Homo sapiens: one gene and its partners. The protein of the gene in region 1 purifies or fractionates together with the protein of each later gene. This does not show direct contact. Each region holds a gene or a part of one and is shown in the gene's direction. Other genes may lie near its edges. The genes, in order: TMEM70, ACSF3, TOP3A, CANT1, CHDH, HPN and NDRG2.

The links.
Region 2: the proteins of TMEM70 (region 1) and ACSF3 purify together in Homo sapiens (affinity purification with mass spectrometry; 2 studies listed by BioGRID and IntAct, with this or other methods). This does not show direct contact.
Region 3: the proteins of TMEM70 (region 1) and TOP3A purify together in Homo sapiens (affinity purification with mass spectrometry; 2 studies listed by BioGRID and IntAct, with this or other methods). This does not show direct contact.
Region 4: the proteins of TMEM70 (region 1) and CANT1 purify together in Homo sapiens (co-immunoprecipitation; one large-scale study listed by IntAct). This does not show direct contact.
Region 5: the proteins of TMEM70 (region 1) and CHDH purify together in Homo sapiens (affinity purification with mass spectrometry; 2 studies listed by BioGRID and IntAct, with this or other methods). This does not show direct contact.
Region 6: the proteins of TMEM70 (region 1) and HPN purify together in Homo sapiens (co-immunoprecipitation; one large-scale study listed by IntAct). This does not show direct contact.
Region 7: the proteins of TMEM70 (region 1) and NDRG2 purify together in Homo sapiens (co-immunoprecipitation; one large-scale study listed by IntAct). This does not show direct contact.

What each region holds. Positions count from the first base shown.
Region 1 is NC_000008.11:73,974,727-73,978,994, forward strand, and holds the start of TMEM70 (transmembrane protein 70, mitochondrial), read left to right. Parts: upstream 1-1,468; 5' UTR 1,469-1,555; coding exon 1,556-1,765; intron 1,766-4,029; coding exon 4,030-4,135; coding exon of another isoform or gene 4,136-4,143; exon of another isoform or gene 4,144-4,149; intron 4,150-4,268. UniProt on the Homo sapiens protein: Scaffold protein that participates in the c-ring assembly of mitochondrial ATP synthase (F(1)F(0) ATP synthase or complex V) by facilitating the membrane insertion and oligomer formation of the subunit c/ATP5MC1 through its interaction.
Region 2 is NC_000016.10:89,110,852-89,114,351, forward strand, and holds part of ACSF3 (malonate--CoA ligase ACSF3, mitochondrial isoform 1 precursor), read left to right. Parts: intron 1-1,240; coding exon 1,241-1,395; intron 1,396-3,487; coding exon 3,488-3,500. UniProt on the Homo sapiens protein: Catalyzes the initial reaction in intramitochondrial fatty acid synthesis, by activating malonate and methylmalonate, but not acetate, into their respective CoA thioester. May have some preference toward very-long-chain substrates.
Region 3 is NC_000017.11:18,283,995-18,287,494, reverse strand, and holds part of TOP3A (DNA topoisomerase 3-alpha), read left to right. Parts: intron 1-1,974; coding exon 1,975-2,088; intron 2,089-2,187; coding exon 2,188-2,353; intron 2,354-3,500. UniProt on the Homo sapiens protein: Releases the supercoiling and torsional tension of DNA introduced during the DNA replication and transcription by transiently cleaving and rejoining one strand of the DNA duplex.
Region 4 is NC_000017.11:78,992,765-78,996,264, reverse strand, and holds part of CANT1 (soluble calcium-activated nucleotidase 1), read left to right. Parts: intron 1-1,043; coding exon 1,044-1,247; intron 1,248-2,344; coding exon 2,345-2,715; 3' UTR 2,716-3,500.
Region 5 is NC_000003.12:53,818,920-53,822,419, reverse strand, and holds part of CHDH (choline dehydrogenase, mitochondrial), read left to right. Parts: intron 1-643; coding exon 644-773; intron 774-1,811; coding exon 1,812-1,946; intron 1,947-2,745; coding exon 2,746-2,888; intron 2,889-3,379; coding exon 3,380-3,482; intron 3,483-3,500.
Region 6 is NC_000019.10:35,058,721-35,062,220, forward strand, and holds part of HPN (serine protease hepsin precursor), read left to right. Parts: intron 1-338; exon of another isoform or gene 339-952; coding exon 953-1,082; intron 1,083-1,153; coding exon 1,154-1,276; intron 1,277-1,408; coding exon 1,409-1,449; intron 1,450-1,626; coding exon 1,627-1,792; intron 1,793-1,906; coding exon 1,907-2,097; intron 2,098-3,500. UniProt on the Homo sapiens protein: Serine protease that cleaves extracellular substrates, and contributes to the proteolytic processing of growth factors, such as HGF and MST1/HGFL. Plays a role in cell growth and maintenance of cell morphology.
Region 7 is NC_000014.9:21,022,262-21,026,518, reverse strand, and holds the start of NDRG2 (protein NDRG2), read left to right. Parts: upstream 1-1,457; 5' UTR 1,458-2,489; exon of another isoform or gene 2,490-2,543; intron 2,544-3,011; exon of another isoform or gene 3,012-3,197; coding exon of another isoform or gene 3,198-3,203; coding exon 3,204-3,278; intron 3,279-3,613; coding exon 3,614-3,655; intron 3,656-4,021; coding exon 4,022-4,127; intron 4,128-4,257. UniProt on the Homo sapiens protein: Contributes to the regulation of the Wnt signaling pathway. Down-regulates CTNNB1-mediated transcriptional activation of target genes, such as CCND1, and may thereby act as tumor suppressor. May be involved in dendritic cell and neuron differentiation.

The sequences.
Region 1 (4,268 bases):
AGTGGTGCAATCAGGGCTCACTGCAGCCTCAACCTCTTGGGCTCAAGTGATCCTTCCACCTCAGCCTCCCAAGTAGCTGGGACTACAGGCAGGTGCCACCATGCCCAGCTAATTTAAAAATTTTTTGTAGAGACAGGGTCTCACTTTGTTGCCCAGGCTGGTCTCAAACTCCTGGAATCAAGTGATCCTCTCACCTGGGCCTCCACGTAGTATTGGAATTGCAGGCGTGAGCTCCCGCCCCTGGCCACACATTATTTTAGACTATGAATTTGTTCCTCTCCGGTGCAAATAACATGTCAAATCAAAAACATGTATAGTTCTGCAGTGGTAAACAAAAGTGTGTTTCTATTACTAAGATGCTCATCCTTCAAGACTGAGCTAAATGTGAAGCCAGTCTGAAGACATTCTGAGGCAAAATTAATCATGTTCTTCTTTGTACTTCTGTGGCATTTGTTTGTTCTTTTTTTTGAGACACGGTGTCACTTTGTGGTCCAGGCTGGAGTGCAGTAGTGTGGTCTTGGCTCACTGAAGCCTCGACTTTGGGCTCAAGCAATCCTACCATGTCAGCCTCCTGGGTAGCTGGGACCACAGGCACACACTTACCATGTGTGGCTTATTTTTGTTTTAGGTTTTTTTTTTTTTTTTTTTTTTGTAGAGACGGGGTCTCCCTGTATTGCTCAGGCTGGTCTCAAACTCCTGGCCTCAAGAGATCTTCCTGCCTAAACCTCCCAAAGCGCTGGGATTACAGGTGTAAGCCACCACGGCCAGCCACATTTTGTATATTGCGGTGTCTCAATTGTATTACATTATATTCTAGCCAATTTTCAGGTATTTTCCTCCACTGTTTAAGCACTGTGGATTCCCAGTTTAATCTAGTATTTTGTATCCTCTGCTCCTAGCTCAGTCCTGGCAATAGATTCAGTACCTCTTTAACAAGTAATGAATCAATGTGTATATGGATGTGAATGATTTCCGAAGACAAATCTGGTAACACCTATCAATATTACATGAACAATTCCATTTATTTTCCTCCAACCCGATGATTCAATTAAGTTATCACTCATTTTTGTTCAAATCGTATATTCTTTCTTCTGTGCCAACAGGCTAGAATCATTTTCCGCAAAGGAAACAGTTTTTAGTGATGTCGTCCACGAGAAAAAAAAATATTTAACCCTGGCTTCTGGGCATTGTCATTCTCGTACAGCCCTCTGCCCCTCCACACTGTTATAAAGAAGGTAAAATTCTAGGAAGGAGGAGCCGCTGAGCCAAGGACAGAGCGGCGGGCTCCCAGCTCAGCTGGCGGATAACGCGCGCGGCCGGGAAGGCGGCAGGCGGGCGGCAGGCGGGCGGCAGGCGGGCGGCAGGCGGGCGGCAGGCGGGCGGCAGGCGGGCGGCAGGCGGGCGGCAGATTCTGCGCACGCGCAGGCAGCCCAGCTGCCAGTCAGGCGTCCCGGGCTGGGCATGCGCCACTTGTGCGGCAGTCGGGTGGGAAGCCGTGTCTCGCAGTCGTGGACTCGTGCAGCTGGGGCGTCCGCAGCCGCTCGTCACCCGCGTGATGCTGTTTCTGGCGTTGGGCAGCCCGTGGGCGGTCGAACTGCCTCTCTGCGGAAGGAGGACTGCATTGTGTGCGGCCGCCGCGCTCCGAGGTCCCCGGGCCTCTGTCTCCCGGGCGTCCTCCAGCAGCGGGCCTTCGGGGCCGGTAGCCGGCTGGAGTACGGGGCCTTCGGGAGCCGCGCGCCTTCTCCGGCGTCCGGGTCGAGCGCAGGTAGGGCGTCCGAGGTCTGGTGTCCCAAGTGAGGCGGGGAGGGCGGGCGTCGTGTCGGGCCTGGGGAGCCCCAGCGGCTCTTCGCGACCTCTCCCAGGTGTCCGTGGCTGGAGCGCGGGAGGAGCCCCCTCTGCGGGGCTTGCAGAAGTAGCAGGCCGAGGGCCCCGGGGTCCTCAGCCTCCGCGAGTCCAGGAGAACGGCTGGAAAGTGCTTACTTTTATGGTAGTTCCAAATCCAGAGGGTTTGTGGTGACAACTATATGTAGTTCCTTTTCTGCCCTTGAGTAGAAGCTTAGAAGTGTTAATTTGCAAAAAATTGGATGCAGCACCTGGAAATAGAACCGAAAGAGCCAGGTTAACCTGACTTTGAGCTTGTTCTACTTTTATGAGGTGGCTGTACTTTTAAGAATTACTTTGGTCCCTGGGAAAAGGGGGATGCAGATGTTAATTCTTTTATTTTGATCTGAATAAATTGTCTTCTAATTCTACTCTGTAAAATATCAGGATTGGCAAACCTGGTTAAAACTTGGAAGAAATGCTTAAAATGGAAATTGGAATCTAATTACATTTCAGCATTGAGGAATTAGGCATGCCTTTTACATTTTGAAGTGTATACACTGTGAAACTCATTTTCAGATGTATGGGGAACGCTTCTGTTCCCTTGAAATTTGATGTAGGATTTCAAGTAAATTTTATTTCTTTTTTTTTGGAGGTGAAGTCTCGCTCTGTCACCCTGGTTGGAGTGCAGTGACGTGATCTTGGCTCACTGCAACCTCCGCCTTCCGGGTTCAAGCGATTCTCCTGCCTCAGCCTCCCCAGTAGTTGGGATTACAGGCGCGCTCCACCACACCCCGGCTGATTTTTTTTTTGTATTTTTAGTAGAGACGGGGTTTCACCGTGTTGGCCAGGCTCGTCTTAAACTCCTGACCTCAAATCATCCTCCTGCCTCGGCCTGTCAAAGGGTTGGGATTACAGGCGTGAGCCGCTGTGCCCAGCCAAATTTTATTTCTTGTCAAGAAATAAGAGGACCAGGGGATACACGGTATTTACAAGGTCTTTAGAGAAAGATTTGATCTCTTTAATACTATCATATAAATATTTTAGCAGTATTTGTAAAAGGCCTGGACTTTAAATATAATGTGAGTTTGCGGAGTATTTTACTTAAATTATTTTAGTAAAATTAAATTTTATTTCTTAGAGATGGGGTCTTGCCATGTTGCCCAGGCTGGCCTTAAACTCCTGGGCTCAAGTGATCCACCTCAGCCTCCCCAGTAGCTGGGGCTATAGACGTGTTCCATTACACCAGCTAAATGTATTTATTTTTTGAAAAGGTGTTGCATTTAAATAGAATGGAAATGATGTCGTCATTAACAGTGGAGTAGAAGAAACTGTTACTATTTTTACTTGTTCAAGGTCACACTAGACCTAGAAACCTGAGAGCTGGGATGCTAAGCTAACAAACTCCAGCTCTGCAGTTTTCTACTTGTGACTAGAATTAAGGCAAGCCATTCTGTCAGCCAATTTATTTCTTTAACTCTGTAGATTATTTGGGAGAATTCCTTATGTCACCTCATGTGACAAGTTCTTTTCATTACAATTTTATTTTATTTTTTTGAGACGGAGTCGTGCTCTGTTGCCCAGGTTGGAGTACAGTGGTGTGATCTCGGACCACTGCAATCTCCGCCTCCCAGGTTCAAGCGATTCTTCTGCCTCAGCCTCCGGAGTAGCTGGATTACAGGCGCCAGACACCATGCCCGGCTAATTGTTTGCATTTTTAGTAGAGACGGGGTTTCACCATGTTGGCCAGGCTGGTCTTGAACTCCTGACCTCAAGTGATCCGCCCCCCTCGGCCTCCCAAAGTGCTGGGATTACAGGCATGAGCCACTGCACCTGCATTACAATTTTAAAAATAAACTTAAGCTGGGCATGGTGGCTCATGCCTGTAATCCCAGCACTTTGGGAGGCCAAGGTGGCAGATCACTTGAGGTCAAGAGTTCAAGACCAGTCTGGCCAACATGGTGAAACCCCGTCTCTAATAAAAATACAGAAATTAGCCGGGTGTGGTGGTGGGCACCTGTAATCCCAGCTACTCAGGAGACTGAGGCAGGAGAATTGCTTGAACCCGGGAAGCAGAGGTTGCAATGGTGAGCTGAGATCGCACCACTGCCCTCCAGTCTGGGAGACAGAGCAAGACTCTGTCTCAAAAAAAAAAACTTAAAAAAATTTAAGAAGGTTAGTTGACCATAATGATCCCTGTTTCAATAGATCCCTGTTTATTGGGAAGGATATGTTCGATTCTTAAATACGCCATCTGACAAATCAGAAGATGGAAGGCTAATTTATACTGGCAATATGGCCCGAGCAGTGTTTGGTAAGTAATTGGAGGTGGGTGTACTTACTTTGTTTTTTTCTCTTTTAATTGTAAAAATATCCTTACCATATCTTACTTGTTGTTATGGCATCCCTTAATTACAAGACGTAAGGAAAATTAGATTTTCATTTTT
Region 2 (3,500 bases), on another chromosome or scaffold:
GCTCCGCGGTGCTGCTGTCTCCCGCACTCTGGTCGCCTGTGTCTTTGCTTTCCCGTCTGTGGGTCAGCCTAGATCACCCCCGTTGACTGTGTCTGACTTTTTTCCTCTTTTCTGCTGCGTCTTGTTTGTTATTAGGTCTATTGAATGAATTCATTTTGGATCTTGTGTTTTTCAGTTTTATGATTTTTTGCAGTTCCACTTCTCTTTGCAATTCTCCATCTTCCCCACGTTGTTCATCTTTTCTTTGAAATTCCTTAATCTGCTTATTGCAGTGATTTGAAGGGCCTTGTCTGGTGATTCGGACGTTTGGATTTCCTGAGACTTCTTCCCTTCAGTTGGGGATCACATCTTTGTGTCCTTACATGCTTTGTGACTTTGAAGGGTTCCAGTCTTTGTCTTTGAAAGAATGATATTATTTCTTCCCCGGAGATTCCTGCCTTTCTCTGCCAGGCAGCTGCGGTGAGGCACTCGTCACTGCAGTCCAGTGAGGAGATGAGATGGGCTGGGGCTGGACTGTGGCATCGGCATCCGTCGACCCCAGTTTCAACGCCGTGTGGGCGAGATCTGTCCTGTGTGTCCTGGGCCTCCCTTAGGTGCTGACCCCACAGCACGAAGAGTGCCCTCCTCCCTCCGCCACACCCTTCGGTGCTCCGTGTGGAACACCGCGGGTAGAGAGGGCCATGGAAGGAATGCGGCTCACCAGCTCTTCCTGAAGCTTTATGGGCGACGCGAGAACCCGCTAACGAGTGAGGAACTTAAAACGTATTTATATGTAAGCAAGAAATGTTTATTATGGAGTAAAATATAAAATTCACATGACTCTTTTAAATAAAAGACTTCACCCGTTCGCTAGTCACTGCATGCCTGTCCATACTGGGAAGCATGCTGACTTCAGGTCTGCGGGCAGCCAGGCCCTCCTGCCAGCTTCCCCAAGGTGTACATCCGCCCTCTCTGTGTAGCTGGAAGAGCCTGACCACTCACGTCTCTCCAGGCCACAGATCCCGAAGCCCTTTTCTAGCTCTGTTCACGATTGCTCTTCCCCTCACAGGCCAGACGCAGCTGTCCCGCGCAACATGGCTTCTGTGGGAAGGGGTCAGAGTTTGAGGCACCCCTTTTAGAAGGGAGGCGCTGCAGACTCTTGAATGTGAACCATGAGAACGCTGTGCCTGGAGCCAGGAGCCTCCGCCACGGGCCCCAGTGCCTGCTCATCTTCCTACCGAGTGCTTCCTTTCCTTCGTAGGTTTGGGAAAAGTTCTTAAGTTCTGAAACGCCGCGGATCAATGTCTTTATGGCAGTGCCTACAATATACACCAAGCTGATGGAGTACTACGACAGGCATTTTACCCAGCCGCACGCCCAGGATTTCTTGCGTGCAGTTTGTGAAGAAAAAATTAGGTAAGTGAAAAGAGCCCACTTTCTCGTTCAGAAAGTCTTAAAGATCAACAGATACGACTTATTTCTAATAAATCACTCCTACTAAGTTCTGGGAAGCAGTGCTTTCCATTTCCTTTCAATGTTCCCTCTCTCTCTACCCGTCTCCGTCTCTACCTCTCTAACTGTCTCTCTCTCTCTCTACCCGTCTGTATGTATATCTGTAATCTCTTCCACGTCGATAGCTGCCTGGATTCTGTATCGCTCTCTCTGTCACACTCTGTCTCTCTATCTCTCTCTGTCTCTCTTTGTCTCTCTCTCTCCATCTCTCCATCTATCTGTCTTCTCTGTCTCTCTTGTCAGACTCTCCATCTCTGTCTTCTCTCTGTCTCTCTCCATCGCTCTTCATCTGTCTCTCCGTCTTCTCTTTCTCTATCTCTCCTGTCTCTCCATCTGTCTCTATCTCTCCATCTGTCTTTGTCTCCGTCTGTCTGTCTGCTCTCTCTCCTGTCCGTCTCTCTCTCTCTCTGTCATGGCGTCTGAAGGACAAGGGTGAGGACAGTGAGCTGACCCGCTTGCTCCTGCTTCATCTGCCCACATGTCCCACGGCGCCTGCCTCTCCTATGCAGTCTCTCTGCCTTCGTGGGCAGCCCTGTGAGGCCTCCTGCCTGGGGCACGTTCTGCTGCTTTTCCTCTCAGCCCCGCTCCTCCCCTCCCAGCTCCCTGGATAAACCCCTCCCTCCCAGGACAAGCTGGTCTTTTGGGCCACCCAGGGGCGTGTTTGCTCTGCACTCTCCCATGAACCTGCAGGCGTGGGAACGTTTCTTTTCCCTCGTGGCTGTTGAGGTGTGGTTCACTAACTGGAAACGCACACGTGTGGCTCAGTGAGTCTTCACACGCATCACAGGCCCGCACCTCCAGCAGAGTCGTGGGTGGGGTATTTTTTCTTTTTGTGAGAGGGAGGGGTGGCGTGGAGGGTGCACTGCAGGAACTGAAGGCTCCACTGCCATCCAGTTTCCAGTGGGATGTGTGTGTCTGTGGCTGCCGCGCGCTCCTCCCAGTCCCCAGGAAGTGCACAGGGAAGCGGCACCTTTGTTCCTGGAGAGAATTCCGGGTTGTCCAAGGCACATGTCTGAACCGCTTCGCTCTCTTTGCCGTTCCCTTGCCCCTTTTCTGTGAGGCCACCGGAGCCCATGGTTTTGCTGCTGCTACTGCTGGGATACCCTGGGGCTGGGCAGGCCCCAAGCTGAGCAGGGTGAGCACAACGTTTTACCAAATCTAAGGAACCAAGGGCAAGAACGAGGTCAGTGAAGGAGAGGATCAGGTGATTTCTGGGGTGACAGAGGCAATGAGACCTCGGCCATCTGGATCTCCCAGCGGGGGTCCTGTCAGTGGTGCCTCCTCGTAAAGCAGGGGCAGCAGCAGGGACCACTCCGCTCAGACCGCAAACAAAAGCGCCTTCCCTACTGCCCGTGAGGCTGCGGGAAATGCTGTGTGAGAGCGCGGGGACTCGGAGTTCTCAGGGCCCGTGTTCTCCTGCCAAGCCTGAGCTGACCCTGTGGGCCAAGATGGCTGCAGTTCTGCGGGTGGTTCTGAGCCCCTTGGGTGTGCCCGGCCCCACCCCTTGGGTGCCGCGGCCATTCACCCATGTCCGCGTTCTGCTGCAGAGCCTGCAAGCTGAGCCGGCTGTAGTCCCCGGATGTGCCTGGCCGCAGCCTGCAGCGCCGTGGCTGTTCACCCGTGATCAGCTCCGTGGTCGGCAGCTGCACGGTCACTGCTGTTCTTGAGCGTGGTTGTGAACAGCGCAGGAACTTTGCAGGGGACACCGCGGACCCTAAGCACATTGTTTACCCTCATTAGCTGTTGGACCTGCTTCCTTCTAAAATACACCCAACAGATCGTTTTCAAAAAACAAAGTCACGCCGTAGCGCAGACTGCAGCGTTGGTCCCGGGTGTCGCACAGTGGTGCTGTACCCACGGCCTGGGGCTCCTGCACTCGTGAAGGAGCTGCCACTTTTGCAAGCAAGGGCCGCCTCCTGAGGGGCTAAACCTGCCACCTTTGCACGCGAGAGCCACGTCCCAAGGGGCTAAACCTGCCTTTGGTTGTGCCGCGTAGGCTGATGGTCTCA
Region 3 (3,500 bases), on another chromosome or scaffold:
GAGTGTAGTGGCACGATTTCAGCTCACTGCAACCTCCGCCTCCCAGGTTCAAGAGATTCTCCTGCCTCAGCCTCCTGAGTAGCTGGGACTACAGGTGCGCATCACTGGCTAATTTTTGTATTTTTAGTAGAGATGGGGTTTCACTGTTAGCTAAGCTGGTCTCGAATTCCTGACCTCAAATGATCCACCCGCCTCGGTCTCCCAAAGTGCTGGGATTATAGGCCTGAGCCACCATGCCCAGCCAGACTTTTTTGTTTTATGTAGGGACAGGGTCTTGCTATGTTGCCTAGTCTGGTCTTGAACTTGCACCCTCAAACTGTCCTCCTACCTCAACCTCCCAAAGTGTTGGGATTACAGGAGTGAGCCACTGCACCTGGCCAGATTTGCCTACTTTAGTTATTTCCTATAAAGAGCCAGGCACAGTGGCTCACACCTGTAATCCCAGCACTTTGGGAGGCCAAGGTGGGCCAATCACTTGAGGTCAGGAGTTCGAGACCAGCTTCACCAACATGGTGAAACACTTTCTCTACTAAAAATGAAAAAATTAGCTGGGCTTGGTGGCAGGCGCCTGTAATCCCAGCTACTCGGGAGGCTGAGGCAAGAGAATCACTTGAACCCGGAAGGCAGAGGTTGCAGTTGATGGACACTTGAGTTGTTTCTACTCTTTGGCTATTATAAATAATCCTGCTGTGAACAGTTTTGTACAAGGTTTTGTGTGGATATGTGTTTTCATTTCTCTTGGGTAGACTTAGGAGTGGGATTGCTGGTTTACTTGGTAACTCTACATTTAACATTTTTAGGAACCACCAAACTTTTCTGAAGTGGCTGTACCGTTTTTCATTTCCACCAGCAAGGCACTAGGATTCCAGTTTATCCACATCCTTACTAACACTTAGTATTATCTCTCTTTTTGATTTTGCCAGTAGGTCTGAACTGCTATTTCACTGGTTTTTTTGGTTGTTTTTTTGTTGTTATTGTTGAGGTGGAGTCTCGCTCTGTTGCCCAGGCTGGAATGCAGTGGCTCGATCTCCGCTCACTGCAGGCTCCGCCTCCCAGGTTCATGCCATTCTTCTGTGTCAGCCTCCTGAGTAGCTGGGACTACAGGTGCCCGCCACCACACCCGGCTAATTTTTTTTTTTTTTTTTTTGTATTTTTAGTAGAGACGGGGTTTCACCGTGTTAGCCAGGATGGTCTTGATCTCCTGACCTCGTGATCTGCCCGCTTCGGCTTCCCAAATTGCTGGGATTACAGGCGTGAGCCACCACGCCCAGCCCTTTTTTTTTTCTTTTTTTTTTTAAAGAGAGTCTCACTCCATCACCCAGGCTGGAGTGCAACGGTGCCATCTCAGCTCGTTGCAGCCTCTGTCTCCTGGGTTCAAGTGATTCTCCTGCCTCAGCCTCCTGAGCAGCTGGGACTACAGGTGCGTGCCGCCACACCCTGCTAATTTTTGTATTTTTGATAGAGACAGGGTTTCAGCATGTTGGCCAGGCTGGTCTCGAACTCCTGACCTCAGATGATCTGCCCACCTTGGCCTCCCAAAATGCTGGGATTACAGGCATAAGCCACTGCTCCCAGCCTTCACTGCAGTTTTAATTTGCATTTCCTTCATGGCAGAGCTACATTTTGAAAGGTCCCTTTGGCCACAGCTTAAAGAATGGTTAGGGTAGAGGAAGAGACTAGAAATAGGGACACAAGCTGCAAGTATGGCTTGGACACATGGGGAAGAGAATTTTTAAAAAGAGCTTTGAAGCTGGAATTGACAGCTTTCCTGAGTAATGGGATGTGAGGGAACAAGAGAGTTGAGGTTGCCATTGTGATTTCTTGAATGAGCTATATGGGAATGAAATGAAGGCATCTTACCTGCATAGGCTGTCCAGGCAAAGGAGGGATTCCGGGGTGAGCAAGGTGCCCATGCGCCACCCGGGTGGAGCTGTTGTCTGTATTACCTCAGAGTAACCAGCAAGTGGCTTCCAGGTACGGATGCCACTCATGCGGAGCACATCGAGACCATCAAAGCCCGGATGTACGTGGGCCTCACCCCAGACAAGCGGTTCCTCCCTGGGCACCTGGGCATGGGACTTGTGGAAGGTAAGGGAGGACAGAGCTTGCAGTGGGTAGTGGGTGGTGTCGCCCAAGTCCCTGAGGGTCTCAGGTGGGCCCTCACTGAGCTCGACTCTCTCCCTGCAGGTTATGATTCCATGGGCTATGAAATGTCTAAGCCTGACCTCCGGGCTGAACTGGAAGCTGATCTGAAGCTGATCTGTGATGGCAAAAAGGACAAATTTGTGGTTCTAAGGCAGCAAGTGCAGAAATACAAGCAGGTTTTCATTGAAGCGGTGGCTAAAGCAAAGAAGTAAGTCCTTAAAAGAAATACAGAGGGGTCTCACTATGTTGCCCAGGCTGGTCTTGAACTCCTGGCCTCAAGAGATCTTCCCACCTCAGCCTCCCAAAGTGTGGGGATTACAGGCGTGAGCCACCGCATCTGGGCCAGTCAGAGTTTATAACCCTGCCAGATTCATCCTCACCAGTGGCCTCCTGGCCTGGAGGTTTTCCACATACCCCTTTTCTTTGGACTTTCTTCTCTGGGTTCTTTTACAACTCTCCATAGAGCTTTGTCAGTATAGAAACAGTAATCGGAACAGTCTCCTTCAGTTATTCTGAACTATTGGCTTTAGAAATACCATTCTCTTGATTTTAATTATCTTTTTTTTTTCTGCTTTAATTACATGACACATTAATTATCTTGAGTTAGGCAACAAAGTCTTTTAAATCAGTAAACCCAAGTGCTGGAGTGTGATCCATTTGTTTTCTGGAGCATTTAGAGGTGGATATTTAGCAAGCAGCATGTGTGTATTTTGTTAGAAATGATGTGTTTTCTACCTGTGATATTATGATTTATAATAAGATATATATATTTGGACTTCATTTTCTGATACCCTTGGAATTTTTTAAGTGCTGTGTCTGTTGTATACAAATGAGATGACTAGTGGCCAAGGGCTCCTGGGTAGCCTTGGGATCGGTCTGGTTGTCAGGGAACCAACCCTGTGATTAGAAGGTTGGGACTTTGAGTCCCACCCCTACCTCAGGAAGAGCAGAGGGGCTGGAGGTTGAGTTGATCACACGTGGCCAGTGATTTGTCAATCATGCCTAAGTAATAAATCCTCCATAAAATCCCCAAACAAGGGTCAGGCACGGTGGCTCACGCCTGTAATCCCAGCACTTTGGGAGGCCGAGGCGGGTAGATCACAAGGTCAGGAGTTCAAGACCAGCCTGGCCAACACAGTGAAACCCCTTTCTCTGCTAAAAAAAAAAAAAAAAAATACAAAAATTAGCCAGGCATGGTGGTGCGTACCTGTAGTCCCAGCTACCTGGGAGGCTGAGGCAGGAGAACTGCTTGAACCCGGAAGGTGGAGGTTGCAATGAGCCGAGATTGCCCCACTGCAGTCCAGCTTGGGCAACAGAGTGAGACTTCTTCAACAACAACAAAAACAAATCAAACA
Region 4 (3,500 bases), on another chromosome or scaffold:
CCACCGCAGGCTTTCTGAGGTCAAGGAGGAACTGCACTAAACAACGGCCCACACAGTTCATGGCCGGCCAGGCCCTCCCCACACCCGGTGATAAAATCTTCAGTGTTTGCCCAGGGCTGGGCAGGGGACGGACCTCACCTGAGGTATCAACTGAGGCGTTGGTCGCCTACTTCCTGCCTCGCACTTGTCAGGGTTTTAGGCAACCCTAGTGTAGTTCTGTCCTTCCCTTGGATAGGGAGGAAAGCGGGGTACAGGGAGCTCTGGGGTTGGGCTGTACTCAGGTCATCCGGGAGGGATGGAAGACCCTGGCATGGAGAATGTCTCATCGCACAAGCAGACCAGGAGACCGCAGGTCCCTCCAGGGCCCTGCAGAGAAGCTACTACAGTCTCGGGCAGTTCAGAGGGCACAGCTCCAGCTCTCAGGGGCAAGAAGCTGGCAAAATTTGGGGAAAGCAAACAGAAGTTAGAACACCAGGGTGTAGGGATGATAAGAATACACGGTAGAACACAGGCTCCCACACAGCCTGAACTGTGGCAGCCTTCAAAGTTAGGCTTATTTTAAATAAATCAGTTTAAAAAAAGCAAAAACAGCTTCTGAACAAATCCATTGAAAGGAAGACTGGGAGCCCCAGCACCAAGCCCCTCTCCGGCCACTGGAGTTAGAGTGATGCTCGGTGAGACCTCAGGTGTGGCCGAGGGCAGCACCCGCACTCCCCTGGGACACACGTGCCCCTTCAGAGTGCTGTCACTTTTCAGCTTTTCTAGCCTTTAAGGATAATCCTAAGGTTGGGGTTACAGCTTGAGGAGCGGGGAGTTGGGGATCAGAGGAGACTTGAGAGTGGTCACTGAACCTTCAGGAGCTGAGGGGAGGGCAGCCGGCCGGCCCTGGGCGGGAGCCAGGTGCGGGCCGGAGGGGAGGCAGGTGTGGAGCCGGGCGGGAGTCAGGTGCGGGGTCTAAGGACAGGTGCGGGGCCGGGTGGGAGCCAGGTGCAGGGGTGCGGCGGGAGCTGGGTGCGGGGCCTAAGGACACTCTGCTTGGCCAGGCTTCAAGGCCGAATGGCTGGCAGTGAAGGACGAGCGTCTGTACGTGGGCGGCCTGGGCAAGGAGTGGACGACCACTACGGGTGATGTGGTGAACGAGAACCCGGAGTGGGTGAAGGTGGTGGGCTACAAGGGCAGCGTGGACCACGAGAACTGGGTGTCCAACTACAACGCCCTGCGGGCTGCTGCCGGCATCCAGCCGCCAGGTAAGAGACGCCTGCCCCAGCCCACAGTGTGGCTTCCACAGCCCAGTCGCTGGGAACCTGCTTCCTCCTGCATTTGCCTCCAAAACCGTTTTTTATTTTAGACATAGTCTTGCTCTGTCACCCCGGTTAGAGTGCAGTGGCACGATCTCAGCTCACTGCAACCTCCACCTCCTGGGTTCAAACGATTTTTCTGCCTCAGCCTCCCCAGTAGCTGGGACTACAGGTGTGCACCACCACGCCCAGCTAATTGTATTTTTAGTGGAGACAGGGTTTCACCATGTTGCCCAGGATGGTCTCGAACTCCTGACTTCGGGTGATCTGGTGATCCACCTGCCTCGGCCTCCCAAAGTGCTGGCATTACGGGCGCGAGCCACCACACCCAGCCTCCAAGGCCGTTTCTTGCTTGATTTTAGTGATTTTGGTTGCCTCTGATGGTGGCTTCCCTCAGGCCAGTGGATTCTGGCGGCAAATGAGCTGTTTTCTCTTTCCTGCCCCACTCGCCCTGGCAGCTGGCCTCCTAGCATCCCAGCCTGTGGCCCGGTTGTCTGCACTGGTGGGTCAGGCCCTGTCCCTACCCCTGGCGCTGGGCCGTGGTGTTCCACACCAACATAGGGCCAGCAGCACTTTGGCCTCCCCCTAGTCAGGATGGAGTAGGCCTTAGGTGCCTGAGGTTCAGGAGGAAGTGACTGAGTCTGTGCCTGGGGCCCCAGACGCTGTCTCCTCTTCCTTGCAGCCTCAAGGCAGCCTCCCCGCCGATGCCTCCCCACATCCAATGGGGGTTTGTTCCCTTTCCTTGGGTTCCTCTGGATCAGCCCCGAGGAGGCTCCGATGAGCCCAAATCCCTGATGCAGCTCACAGGCAGCTCTCGGTGGAACGGGAGGAGGCTTCAAGGGAGCGGGTGCTGCAGGTTCCCTGCATGGGATAACCGAGAACACAGAACCTTCCAGAATCCTGGAGAGCAGGGAGGGGCGGGTTGCTGTGAGCTGGTGGGCCCTGGTGGTCGCAGCCCCTTGCCTGCTACTGCGCACGGCCTGATGGTGTGGGGCTGGGCACACCAGGCCGCATGCGTGTCTGACCCGCGGTCACCCGGTTCCCAGGCTACCTCATCCATGAGTCTGCCTGCTGGAGTGACACGCTGCAGCGCTGGTTCTTCCTGCCGCGCCGCGCCAGCCAGGAGCGCTACAGCGAGAAGGACGACGAGCGCAAGGGCGCCAACCTGCTGCTGAGCGCCTCCCCTGACTTCGGCGACATCGCTGTGAGCCACGTCGGGGCGGTGGTCCCCACTCACGGCTTCTCGTCCTTCAAGTTCATCCCCAACACCGACGACCAGATCATTGTGGCCCTCAAATCCGAGGAGGACAGCGGCAGAGTCGCCTCCTACATCATGGCCTTCACGCTGGACGGGCGCTTCCTGTTGCCGGAGACCAAGATCGGAAGCGTGAAATACGAAGGCATCGAGTTCATTTAACTCAAAACGGAAACACTGAGCAAGGCCATCAGGACTCAGCTTTTATAAAAACAAGAGGAGTGCACTTTTGTTTTGTTTTGTTCTTTTTGGAACTGTGCCTGGGTTGGAGGTCTGGACAGGGAGCCCAGTCCCGGGCCCCATAGTGGTGCGGGCACTGGACCCCCGGGCCCCACGGAGGCCGCGGTCTGAACTGCTTTCCATGCTGCCATCTGGTGGTGATTTCGGTCACTTCAGGCATTGACTCAAGGCCTGCCTAACTGGCTGGGTCGTTTCTTCCATCCGACCTCGTTTCTTTTCTTTCCTATGTTCTTTTGTTCAGTGAATATCCCTAGAGCTCCTACCATATGTCAGGCCCTATGCCTCACCCTGAGAACGCAGTGAGCATGAGGTGGACCTGTTTGCTGGGAACCCCAGGTCACCCCCTTTTCTTCCTACTCTGTGCCTGGAGCATCATGTCCACCCCTGCAGATCCTTGGAAAAGAAAATGTTTATGTTGCAGGGTATTGCATGGTCACGAGTGAGGGCAGGCCCCTGGGGACACATCTGCCCACAGCTGCACAGGCCAGGGCGCAGGCACATCTGTTGGTTCTCAGGCCTCAGATAAAACCATCTCCGCATCATATGGCCAGTGACCGCTTTCTCCCTTCAAGAAAATTCTGTGGCTGTGCAGTACTTTGAAGTTTTAATTATTAACCTGCTTTAATTAAAGCAGTTTCCTTTCTTATAAAGTGGAATCACCAAATCTTATCACACAGAGCACAGTCCTGTAGTTACCCAGCCCGCTC
Region 5 (3,500 bases), on another chromosome or scaffold:
GCAGGAGTCACGCCCTCACCCCCAGACCCACGTGCTCATCCCTGTGATGGCGGGGGGAGGGGCGAGTAGCTGATGGCAGTGGGCTGGTGGAGGTGAAGAAGCCCCTAGTCCTGCCACCGAGAAAGGGCCTATGGTGTCAGTGCCCCTGTGTGCCATGCCTAATTCAGAGCTCTCCCCCAGTACCTTCCACACCATTTCAAGGCACCGATGTCACAGAAAGCTATAGGTTTAAAGCTATAGGTTTACACTAGAGGTTTTAAAACCCATAAATGTGATTGTACTCTATTTCTGTGTTGTTGGCAGGGGGTCTGATTGTTTTGCAGCTTCATGTGTAGATCTGGTTCACCGCTTGCTCTCTCTAAACCACCCACTTGAATGCCTGCTTTCATTTATCTCGTGTAAGCCCTCCCCTCCTGTTTCTAAGGCTGTCACTACTGTCCAGCTGTAGTTGCACCTGCTGGTTGCTTTCAAGTAGTGACTCAGTGAGTTTCCTCTCCTTAGCTCTGGGGCCTGTCCCGGGTGTGCCACAGGATTCTACATCCCAAGGCTGTGTTCTCATGGTGCTGGCTAGAGTAGGGCGCTGGTCTGTGAGTCAGGAGAACAGCTGGCTTTTCAGGGAGTGACCTGGCTGGACCTCTTCCAGGCTTATGCCAGCAAGGAGGTGATTCTGAGTGGAGGTGCCATCAACTCTCCACAGCTGCTCATGCTCTCTGGCATCGGGAATGCTGATGACCTCAAGAAACTGGGCATCCCTGTGGTGTGCCACCTACCTGGTGAGTCCCCTTCTTTACTGCTCCCCAGAGGCTGTCTCTGCTCAACAAAAGGCTTAGTGTATGTATCTTATTAGCATGAAGTGGGGAGGTGGTGGCAGTCAGTGATCCTTGGAACTATCACATTGTCCCCGAGAGCCCGAAGGTTTCCCAGGCCTCACTGGACACTGTCATCCCTGGGCCCCGAGTCTTGCATTGTTTTCCTTCTCCCTCCTCCGGCTGCCCTATTTCATTTGGAGAAGGGCACCCTGCAGCAGGGAGTATCTGCCCTGAAGCCCCACTGGGTCGGGCATGGGCGTGTCACCAGGGCAGCTCTATGGCGAGAGGGGTCCAGGCCTCGTCCTTCCATCCACAGGACTCGCTGGCTGCCCTGAGCATGAATGAGGTCAGCTCCGTGCTCCAGAGCCTGCTCTTCATGTTAAGATGTAAACTTTGTTTTATAAACTGTCTCTGATGCTCTTGAGGGTCGGGCTCTGTCTCTTGCCCTCCTTGATAACCCCACTCCGGGAGGGCTAGGCCTTTGTGCCTTTAGGCTTCATCATGAGGGGCCCGGGGAAGTGCTGCTTCATGATGTTGACCTGCCCAGTGTCCCAGTAGGCTTGGATGAATTCATGCAAGGACGGTGTAGCACGACAGGGCTGCTTCCTCCTTCCCCACGCTGGCGTGAGGGTGGGGCTGCTGTCTGCCCCTCTGGCCATCACCATCCAGCAACCGCTCACCAAGCAGTGCCTGCTGAAGGCGTAGGCCCTGCCCTCACAGAGGGGGCTGCTGAGCAGGGCTGACAAGGGGCACCCAGAGGCTGCCGTAGGAGTGAGTGACAAGGACAGGTGGCCTTGGCAGCATCCGAGGCAGGCCAGACTTGGCCAGGAGTGCACACATAGTGTCTCTGGGAGGCAGCCTTTAAGCTGAGACCAGGGAACTGAGCAGGAGCTGGTCCAGAAGATAAGGGAATAGGAAAGAATTTTTCAAAACCGGGGGGATATTGAGAAGCAGCTGAGCCCCCTTGGTAGCCATTTTCTAAACCACTCCTTCCCGTATCAGGGGTTGGCCAGAACCTGCAAGACCACCTGGAGATCTACATTCAGCAGGCATGCACCCGCCCTATCACCCTCCATTCAGCACAGAAGCCCCTGCGGAAGGTCTGCATTGGTCTGGAGTGGCTCTGGAAATTCACAGGTGAGCACGCTTACCAGTAACCTGGGAGGAGACTGCCTATAAGCATTGAGACCTCCTTCCTGAGGAGCTGAACAGGGGTTCTGGCCACTGGGTTTGATGCGGAACTATGCCATTTACCTTAGCCCTGAGCCTCAGTTTTTCCATCTTCAAAATGGGGATGCACAGTTTCAACCTGACAGGTTGAAGCGAGGACCAGAAACAATAGCACATGCCAAGGAGCTTGGCCCAGGGCCTGCTGGAGGTGAGACTCCTCGGGGCTTAGGGGCTGCTCCTCCTTACGGATGAGCAGGGATGGCCTTGTGCTGGACAGCAGGTGAGGTCCAAGGAGCCAGGAGAAAAGGTGGAGAGAGGAGACTTTGGGGCTAGACTGCAGAATCAGCATTCATCTTTCAACCTTTTCCATTTGATTTCTAGCTGTGCCTGGGCCAGGAAATGGTAGTTTAAAATCCTACCCATCCACTCAGTCTGTATTTCTCACACACCTAGTATGTGCTGTGTGCTGTGCTAGGTAGTGGGAAGAGCCGGTAAGGCAGGTGGCATGGGCAGTGGCAGAATTGGCCCTGGTAGAGAGCAGAGCTGATGCCATCCTTTTGGCAAATAGCTGACATTTTATGGTGTGGTGCTGGGTGAGCCCCCTGTGAGGGGTGAACAGATGTGGACAGGACTTGGGTCCAGGCACTAGAGTGGAGTCCGGGAAAAGGAAGAGGAGCGGCCAGGAGAAAGGAGGGAAACCAGGAGCAGCCGGCCCACCTGCCACGGCCTGACTGGCTCTTCTGCCTCATCCTCTTCTGCTTCTCAGGGGAGGGAGCCACTGCCCATCTGGAAACAGGTGGGTTCATCCGCAGCCAGCCTGGGGTCCCCCACCCGGACATCCAGTTCCATTTCCTGCCATCCCAAGTGATTGACCACGGGCGGGTCCCCACCCAGCAGGAGGCTTACCAGGTGAGCAGGTGGAAGAGCCTCGGCTTCCCAGGATGTCTCCTTCCCACCAGGAAGGAAGATGCTCCCATCTTCCAAGGCAGCATTCTCCCTGGTGCCATATGGCTGCAGAGTGGGGGACACAGAGGCCTGTCCCCTGCCTTCCAGCTGCCCAGCGTGTCAGTCTGCGTGGTGCATGCCAATGGTATGACTGTTTCATGCAGGCTAGGTACCGAGCACCAGAAATGGGACAAACAGAGGGGCTGACTTGGCTCTGGGATCACCACCTCTGAAAGCTTTGAGCCATGGAGTATGAGGCCAGGATGAAAGAGTGATTCCTTGAGGTGGTCTGTAATCACTCGTGGAGGTGGGTACCATGCGGGCAAATGCTAACATGCATCTGTTCCCCACTGATTCTGGAAGCAGAGGCCCACCCTACAGGTAAACCAGGGTTGACAGAGGTCACTGTGGATGTCTATGGAGGGACCGTCACTGCTTCCTCTGTGTTCTTCTAGGTACATGTGGGGCCCATGCGGGGCACGAGTGTGGGCTGGCTCAAACTGAGAAGTGCCAATCCCCAAGACCACCCTGTGATCCAGCCCAACTACTTGTCAACAGGTACTTCACCCACCTGTG
Region 6 (3,500 bases), on another chromosome or scaffold:
AACAAATTTGTTCTTCTATTTTCCATATGCTGTCTGTGTACGTATAAAGTGAGAGGTCTTTTTATATGAGTTAAGGGTGTGACCAAAGACAAATGGAAAAAGACAAATGACAAACATACTAATAAAGAGCTTCGGTTTCTCCACAAAAAATACAATAATAAAATAAAATGTTATCAGAAATCTCTTGACTCTCCTCCACGTTAGCTCACTTTTTCCCTCAAGAGGGTGAACATGACCCTTAACAGATCCAGCCTCAAGTGCTGGATTCTCTTGGGAACTTGGTTAAATGGTTTTTTTTCTTCCCGAATGTCCAAGTCACCTTCCAGACCTGCAGCTCCTGAGCAGCCAACTTAGGACTTCTAATGGAGAGTGAAGTTCCCCTGGTTCGCGGAGGGGCCGGCCACAGCCTCAAGGCTGCTGTTGATTGGTCCGACCTGAGTCCTTGAGTCTGGCAGAGTGCCATGGTGCTCTGTAATCCCACCTGTAATCCCAGCATTTTAGGAGGCAGAGGCAGGAAGATTGCTTGAGCCTAGGAGTTCAAGACCAGCCTGGGCAACATAGCAAGACCCGTCTCTACAAAACAAAACAAAACAAAACAAACAAACAAAAAAATTAGTCAGGTGTGGTGGTGCACGCCTGTGGTCCTAGCTACTCAGGAGGTTGAGGTAGGAGGATTTCTTGAGTCTGGGAGGTCAAGGCTACAGTGAGCCAAGATCACACCACTACACTCCAGCCTGGGCAACAGAGCGAGACCCTGTCTTTAAAAAAAAAAAGTCCTTGAGTCATGATTCCAGATGCAATCGCAGATGTGGGGGCTGCAACCCTCCGATGGGCTGGGGTTCACGTCTACACCACATGGCTGGAGCACAGGCCAGGAGGGGCTCCGGCTGGGGAAGCATGTGGGGAGCCTGGCTGTGGGACCCAGGCGGCCCCGGGCCCTGTCGCCCTGCAGTGCAGGTCAGCTCTGCGGACGCTCGGCTCATGGTCTTTGACAAGACGGAAGGGACGTGGCGGCTGCTGTGCTCCTCGCGCTCCAACGCCAGGGTAGCCGGACTCAGCTGCGAGGAGATGGGCTTCCTCAGGTACTGGGGGCCCTCGGAGGGGTGGGAGCCGGGAGGGGCTGGGGAGCAGGCCTAACCCCTGCCCCGCCCAGGGCACTGACCCACTCCGAGCTGGACGTGCGAACGGCGGGCGCCAATGGCACGTCGGGCTTCTTCTGTGTGGACGAGGGGAGGCTGCCCCACACCCAGAGGCTGCTGGAGGTCATCTCCGTGTGGTGAGGAGGGCAGCGGGCAGGTGGGGCAACACCTCAGACCCCCAAGGCACTCCCTCTCCCCGTTTTCCTTCCACCTGTCTTAACTGGTCTCTATTTCCTTTCTTTCTGTGTCTCCAATCCCATCTCTCCCAGTGATTGCCCCAGAGGCCGTTTCTTGGCCGCCATCTGCCAAGGTGAGATCCTAAAACTCAGAACCCTCTCCTTTAGGCCCTTGGGGAGGCCACGTCCCCTCAAGCTCCCCAGGATGGGGCCATGTACTTTCAGACCCCCTAGGGCAGGGCCAAGCCTGGGCTCTGGGGACCTGGGCTCCAGTCCCCTGTCGCCGCCCCCTGCTGACCCTTGTCCCACAGACTGTGGCCGCAGGAAGCTGCCCGTGGACCGCATCGTGGGAGGCCGGGACACCAGCTTGGGCCGGTGGCCGTGGCAAGTCAGCCTTCGCTATGATGGAGCACACCTCTGTGGGGGATCCCTGCTCTCCGGGGACTGGGTGCTGACAGCCGCCCACTGCTTCCCGGAGTGAGTGCCCCCCAATGGCGCTGATGATGGGGAGGCAGAGGAGCGGAGAGACAGTGGGGAGGAGGGCGGATTGTGCCCAGGCAGGTGGCCACCCTCCACCCCTTTCCCTGGTAGGCGGAACCGGGTCCTGTCCCGATGGCGAGTGTTTGCCGGTGCCGTGGCCCAGGCCTCTCCCCACGGTCTGCAGCTGGGGGTGCAGGCTGTGGTCTACCACGGGGGCTATCTTCCCTTTCGGGACCCCAACAGCGAGGAGAACAGCAACGATATTGCCCTGGTCCACCTCTCCAGTCCCCTGCCCCTCACAGGTAAGTCTAAGGGCTGAGCCATGGGGCTTGAGGACCCGAGGCCAGGAGGACAGAGGAGGGGACCAGGGGCACAAGGCAATCAACTTATGGCTCAGGCATCCTTGGCAATAAGGGGAATGATCTCGAGGGAGCACAAAGTGGGCCTTAACTATCAATGATCAGTGCAGCCAATTTGGAAAATTTGCCAGCATTTCCCCAAGAAGTATACATAAAGTTACCATTGGACCCAACACTTCCACTCCCAGGACAGGAGGTATATACCTAAGACAAATGGAAACTGTGTCTGCACCAAAACTCGTACATCAGTGTTCATAGCAGCATTATTCATAATAGCCCAAAGATGGAAACAGCCCAAGACTGTTTCATCGGACAAATGCATAAAGAAAATGTGGTATATTGACCGGGCGCGGTGGCTCATGCCTGTAATCCCAGCACTTTGGGAGGCCGAGGTGGGTGGATCACGAGGTCAGGAGTTTGAAACCAGCCTGGCCAACATGGTGAAACTCCATCTCTACTAAAAATACAAAAATTAGCCTGGCCAACATGGTGAAACTCCATCTCTACTAAAAATACAAAAATTAGCCTGGCCAACATGGTGAAACTCCATCTCTACTAAAAATACAAAAATTAGCCTGGCGTGGTGGCACACGCCTGTAATCCCAGCTACTCGGGAGGATGAGGCAGGAGAATCTCTTGAACCCGGGAGGTGGAGATTGCAGTGAGCCGAGATCACACCACTGCACTCCAGCCTGGCTGACAGAGCAAGGCTCTGTCATCTTGAAAATAAATAAATAAATAACAAAAAAAATGTGGTATATCCACACAACGGGAGAATATTGGACCATAGAAATGAATGAGGTACTGATTCATGCTACCACAAGGATGAAACTTGAGAACAGTGCTGAATGAGACAAGCCAGCCGCAAAGGCCACATACTGTAGGATGCCACTTGTATGAAATGTACAAGGCTGGGCACGGTGGCTCACGCCTGTAATCCTGGCACTCTGGGCAGCTGAGATGGGAGGATTGTTTGTGCTCAGGAGTTTAAGACCAGCCTGGGCAACATAGCAAGACCCCATCACTTAAAAAAATGAGCTAGGTGTGGTGACGGATACCTGTAGTTCCAGTTACTCAGGAGGCTAAGGCAGGAGGATCACTTGAGCCCAGGAGTTTGAGGCTGCAGTGGGCTAGGATTGTGCCACTGTACTCCAGCCTGGGTAACAGAGCAAAACCTTGTCTGTTAAAAAAAGAAGAAAGAAAGAAAGAGAAAGAAAAGAAAGGAAGGAAGGAAGAAAAGAAGAAAAGAAAAGGAAAGAAAGAAAAGAAATGTCTAGAATAGGCACATCGGTAGAGATAGAAAGTTGATTGATGGTGGCAGGGTGGGAGGTGGGGATGGGAGATTG
Region 7 (4,257 bases), on another chromosome or scaffold:
GGTGGTGGTGGGAGGGTGGTTCCCAGGCAGGAGGGGGCAGGGAAACTTGGGGGTCTTGGGGGGGCAGTCGGTGCTGGTGTTGCAGTTGGCAGCTCAAGTTCCATTGGCCATTGTTCCTGACTGGCCTGGCGCCCAGCCCCCGAAATGGCAACTCAGGAACCAGTCTGAAGGGGGTTGGGGTGGATATGATCCTGGGATTGGGGGAGCTACAAGGGGGGCAGGTGGGGAGAAATTCAGTCAGGTTTCCTTTTGCCTAAACAACTTCGAATTCCCTTAAGCCACATTTTTAATCAACTAACTCATTCCAGGGAGCCTTCCTCCGAGGGGCACAAGGAGAGCTCATTCCAGGGTGTGTGTGTGTGTGTGCGTGTGCGTGTGTGTGTAAAGTCTACAGTGGCAAACCCACTCGGGCACCGAGAGGGACGCGGCAGACCCTGAGACCATCCCCCGGGCATTGCGATTCAGCGGGCCTGAGCTGGTCTCCTATTCTGGGCCGGACTGGGAGGGGTTAGCGGCGAAGCCACAGGGTCTCTTGGGTCCCAGCCCAGGACACTGCGTCCTCCCCAAGCCCCTACTCCACCCCCGCAGGGTTAACTCCGCCCCTGCGCCTGTTTACCCAGGAGTCAGAGCCTCTGGGGGTCCCCGGCCCCTCCCCCGCGCCCCTTGAGGCATTGACCCCAGAGTCCCTGTTGGCCATCCTCTCCCCACCCCCCGCCTGCCCGCGATCGCCCTCTATTTATAGCGGCCCCCCGCATTCCCCGCCCCCACCTCCCCGCCTTGTTGTCCAACTTCTCCCGGAGCAGCCGGAGAGCAGGCGTCGGGACGCAGCAAAGAGAGGAGAGGTACCAGGACTCTGGGCACGAGGGAGTCGGAACTCCTGCGCCCTCGACGTTCCCCCGTGCCCCCTTTCGGCGCCAGCACACCTGCCCCTGCCAGCCGGCGAGACCCCCGCCTCCTCAGCGGCGGTCCCGCCCACCTCCTCCTTTCTTAATCTAGTTCTCTGTGTTCGGGCGGGGGGAGTCGAACTCGTGGGGTGTCAGTATCCCGGGTTCGTCTCCCCACTACCGGTTCCCACCACTGAGTCTGGGGGCGAAGGAAGGAGCCAGAGTGCAATTGCAGATCCAGGTCGTGGATGGGGCGGTGCTGAGGGCAGCCGAGGGATCCCTCTCAGGGCTGAGGGATCCCCGCACTCCCCACACCGCCCCAATGCGGGGAGGGGGTGGTGGAATGTTTTGGTGAGCCGAGCAGAGCCTGGAAGCGTCCAGCCGCCCGCCCCTCGCCCCCCGGCCCCAGCACAACCCTTTCCTGAGCGGCAGTCTGGGCGGGGTGAAAGGGGGGGCGTGTTTACTGGGGGTCTGGGGCGGGTCTGCGGGGAGCCTAGCGCCCGTGGGCGGGCTGGGGCGGGCCGGGGGCGGGTCTGCGGGAAGCCCGAGCCGGGGCGGGCCCGAGTCAAAGGCAAGTGAAGGTGGAAGCGGCCGCGGCGGCAGCAGGTAGGGGGAGGGGCAGGCGAGGGGCCGTAGGGCCTGGAAGGCGCCAGCCGGGCCGGCGGGCGGTGTGATTGATCCGCGTCCCCTGGAGCTGGAGGCTCGGGGGAAAGGGCCAGCACGGAGCGGGCGCTCGGTTGCTGCGCACAAAGGCTGAGGCTCCAAGAGCTGCAGGGCGTGTTTGGGGTGCGCGCGAGGTTGTGTGCAAGGTCCGGGGCGCTTGGCACCGGCCACGCAAGGGTGTCAGTCTCCACGCGGACGGGCTGCGTAGGGACTCGTAGGGACGGGTTCCGGGTGCTGGGCCCGGCCGGTCTCCTCTGTCCTACCCATCCCTTCCCGATGGCGCTTGCCTTCGCGGGCCGTCGGGGGAGAACGGGAGAAGATTGTGGGACCGCTCTCCTCTCCCTTTCTCCACTCGTGGGACCTACACGGAGACTGAGTAGAGGAGAGAAGCGACGGCACCAATCTTTGTGTTTGTTTTTAAATTGTGGAGGGAAACAGCCATGCTCTGCTACCCTCCTCTTACTGGAGAGCTGTCAAAAATTTTGGGGATCCCCTATTCCCCCGCGTTTAGTCCCCCTGCAGATAGAAAATTGAGGCCAAATGTAGTAACTAACTGGGGCAAGGTCACACTGGGAGTGGCAGAGCCGGGATTCGAATCCGGAGGTTCTGACAGGGCCACCCTCTTACCTCCACATCAGCACTTCCTTCTCTCCTCCGCGCAGCCTGAACTGATGCCCTTGTAGCCTATATTGATTCCGGCTCGAGCCTAGAGAGGACGTGTTCTCTGGACTTAGGGGTAGACAGACACTGGGGAGGGTTAGTGACCCGAGGAGGTTGATGACCCTGGGAGTCTGGGTCTTGGCTGAGGCTTTCCGTCCCTGAAAGACCCCAGGTCTGTCTCCCATGTCATTCACCTCGTTGCTGTGTTTTCTCAGACCCCAGAGTCAGAAGGAGTGAGAACCCTGACCCCTAATCCCACTGCATCCAGCCAATAGGAGCCCAGTAAGTGACCCCACCCCGCAGGCTGCAGGCTCCTTCCTGTGCAGGTCTGTCCAGGTGCTCTGCTCCTCACCCACTAATGTTGAACTTGCGGAGTTTATTCAGAGTTGGGAGGAAGGGTCTTGGGAGGAAGGGAGGCATTGGGTTGGTTGGACAGATGTCCCTTTTATGTTGTTTTCCCCACCTCCCCCATTGGTCATGTTGCTTTGGTCATTTTTAGCCCCCTTTGAGCTGCCGACTTTGGGGCTTTAATTGAAGGTCATGGTCAATTGTGAACTCTCACAGTCCCGTCTTTTGGTACCCTGTCCTTTAGAATACTCAGTCACTGAGCTACAAGTTTCACTCCCTACCTGAGAGTGTGGGGTGGCCCCTAAATATAGCCCGAGAAATCTGAGCTACACTTCTGCCCCACCCTGGTATTTTGGTCCAGGGCAGAGGAGGGAGGGGTCTGGAGGTGTGGTGTTGAGGGTGGCAGTGGGGATGGTGAGTATCAAGAGAAGGGCTGTCCTGATTCCTCTTCCAAAGCTTCCACCGATCAGCCTGGAAACGGAGCTGGGGGCAGGAAAGGCCCTCTGTGTGTTCTAGAGTAGTCTTCAACCCCTGGGTCCCTCTGTTCCCTGCATCTTCCTGTGCTGAGAGAGGAAGCCTGGTGTTTGAGGCGATGTGGGGATGTAGAGACAACTTCCCAGTCTCATTTCCTCATCCTGCCAGGCCACCATGGCGGAGCTGCAGGAGGTGCAGATCACAGAGGAGAAGCCACTGTTGCCAGGACAGACGCCTGAGGCGGCCAAGGTTATTAGAGACCGTTTGACTCCCATGCCCAAATTCCAGACCTCTAAGCATCCCCCTTGCCTTCTAACTTCCCAAGCGTACTGATCTTATTCTAACTCACACCACTGCTTCACCACTACCCTAGTCTCTCTCCCCATACACTATAATTGGGAGTCAGGCCCTTGTCTCGTCACTACACTAACCTTCATCCTTTCCGTGTCTCTCTTTGTCAATCTCTTTCTGTCTTTGGTCATTTGTTGGTCTGTCTTTACTTGCCTCTCTTTGTCTGTTTGTCTCTCCATCTGGGACGCCACATGGTCATGTGTTTCTGTGTGAATCCGTGTGTGTCTCTCCAGGAGGCTGAGTTAGCTGCCCGAATCCTCCTGGACCAGGGACAGGTAACAGTGTGGGGGCAGTCCCAAGGTGGGAGGAGGGGCTGTCCTCTTCCCCAGTAGAAGGATGGCCTCTGCTTGGCCCTCTCTTCTCTCTTTGCTTTCTTTCCTTCTATTCTAGTCCTTTCCCTTCCCTATCTCTCCCCTCTCCTTCCTTCCCCTCCTCTTCTCTCTCTAATCTTCATTATTCTTTCTTATCCTCAAACTCATCTTCCGGTATCATGTTTTCCTCAATTCTTGCTGATCCTGTTTTTAATTCTTTGTTCCCTTTTCCCTCTTGCCCACCCACTCCCAGCTCCCTGACCTTGGTGTTGCTCCTTTTCTGGCCTCGTCTCCTCTGAGCCTAGCTCTTGGTGCCCTGTTTTCCTGCAGACTCACTCTGTGGAGACACCATACGGCTCTGTCACTTTCACTGTCTATGGCACCCCCAAACCCAAACGCCCAGCGATCCTTACCTACCACGATGTGGGACTCAACTGTAAGGACCTTCATTCATCTCCCACTCCTGTCTGGGAAGAGGCTGTGGGGGAAGGGTAGAAATGAAACCCAGAGGGAGGGGAGGGGTCAGTGTGGGAAGGAGAAGTTCTCTCCTGGTCTGACTGTGGCAT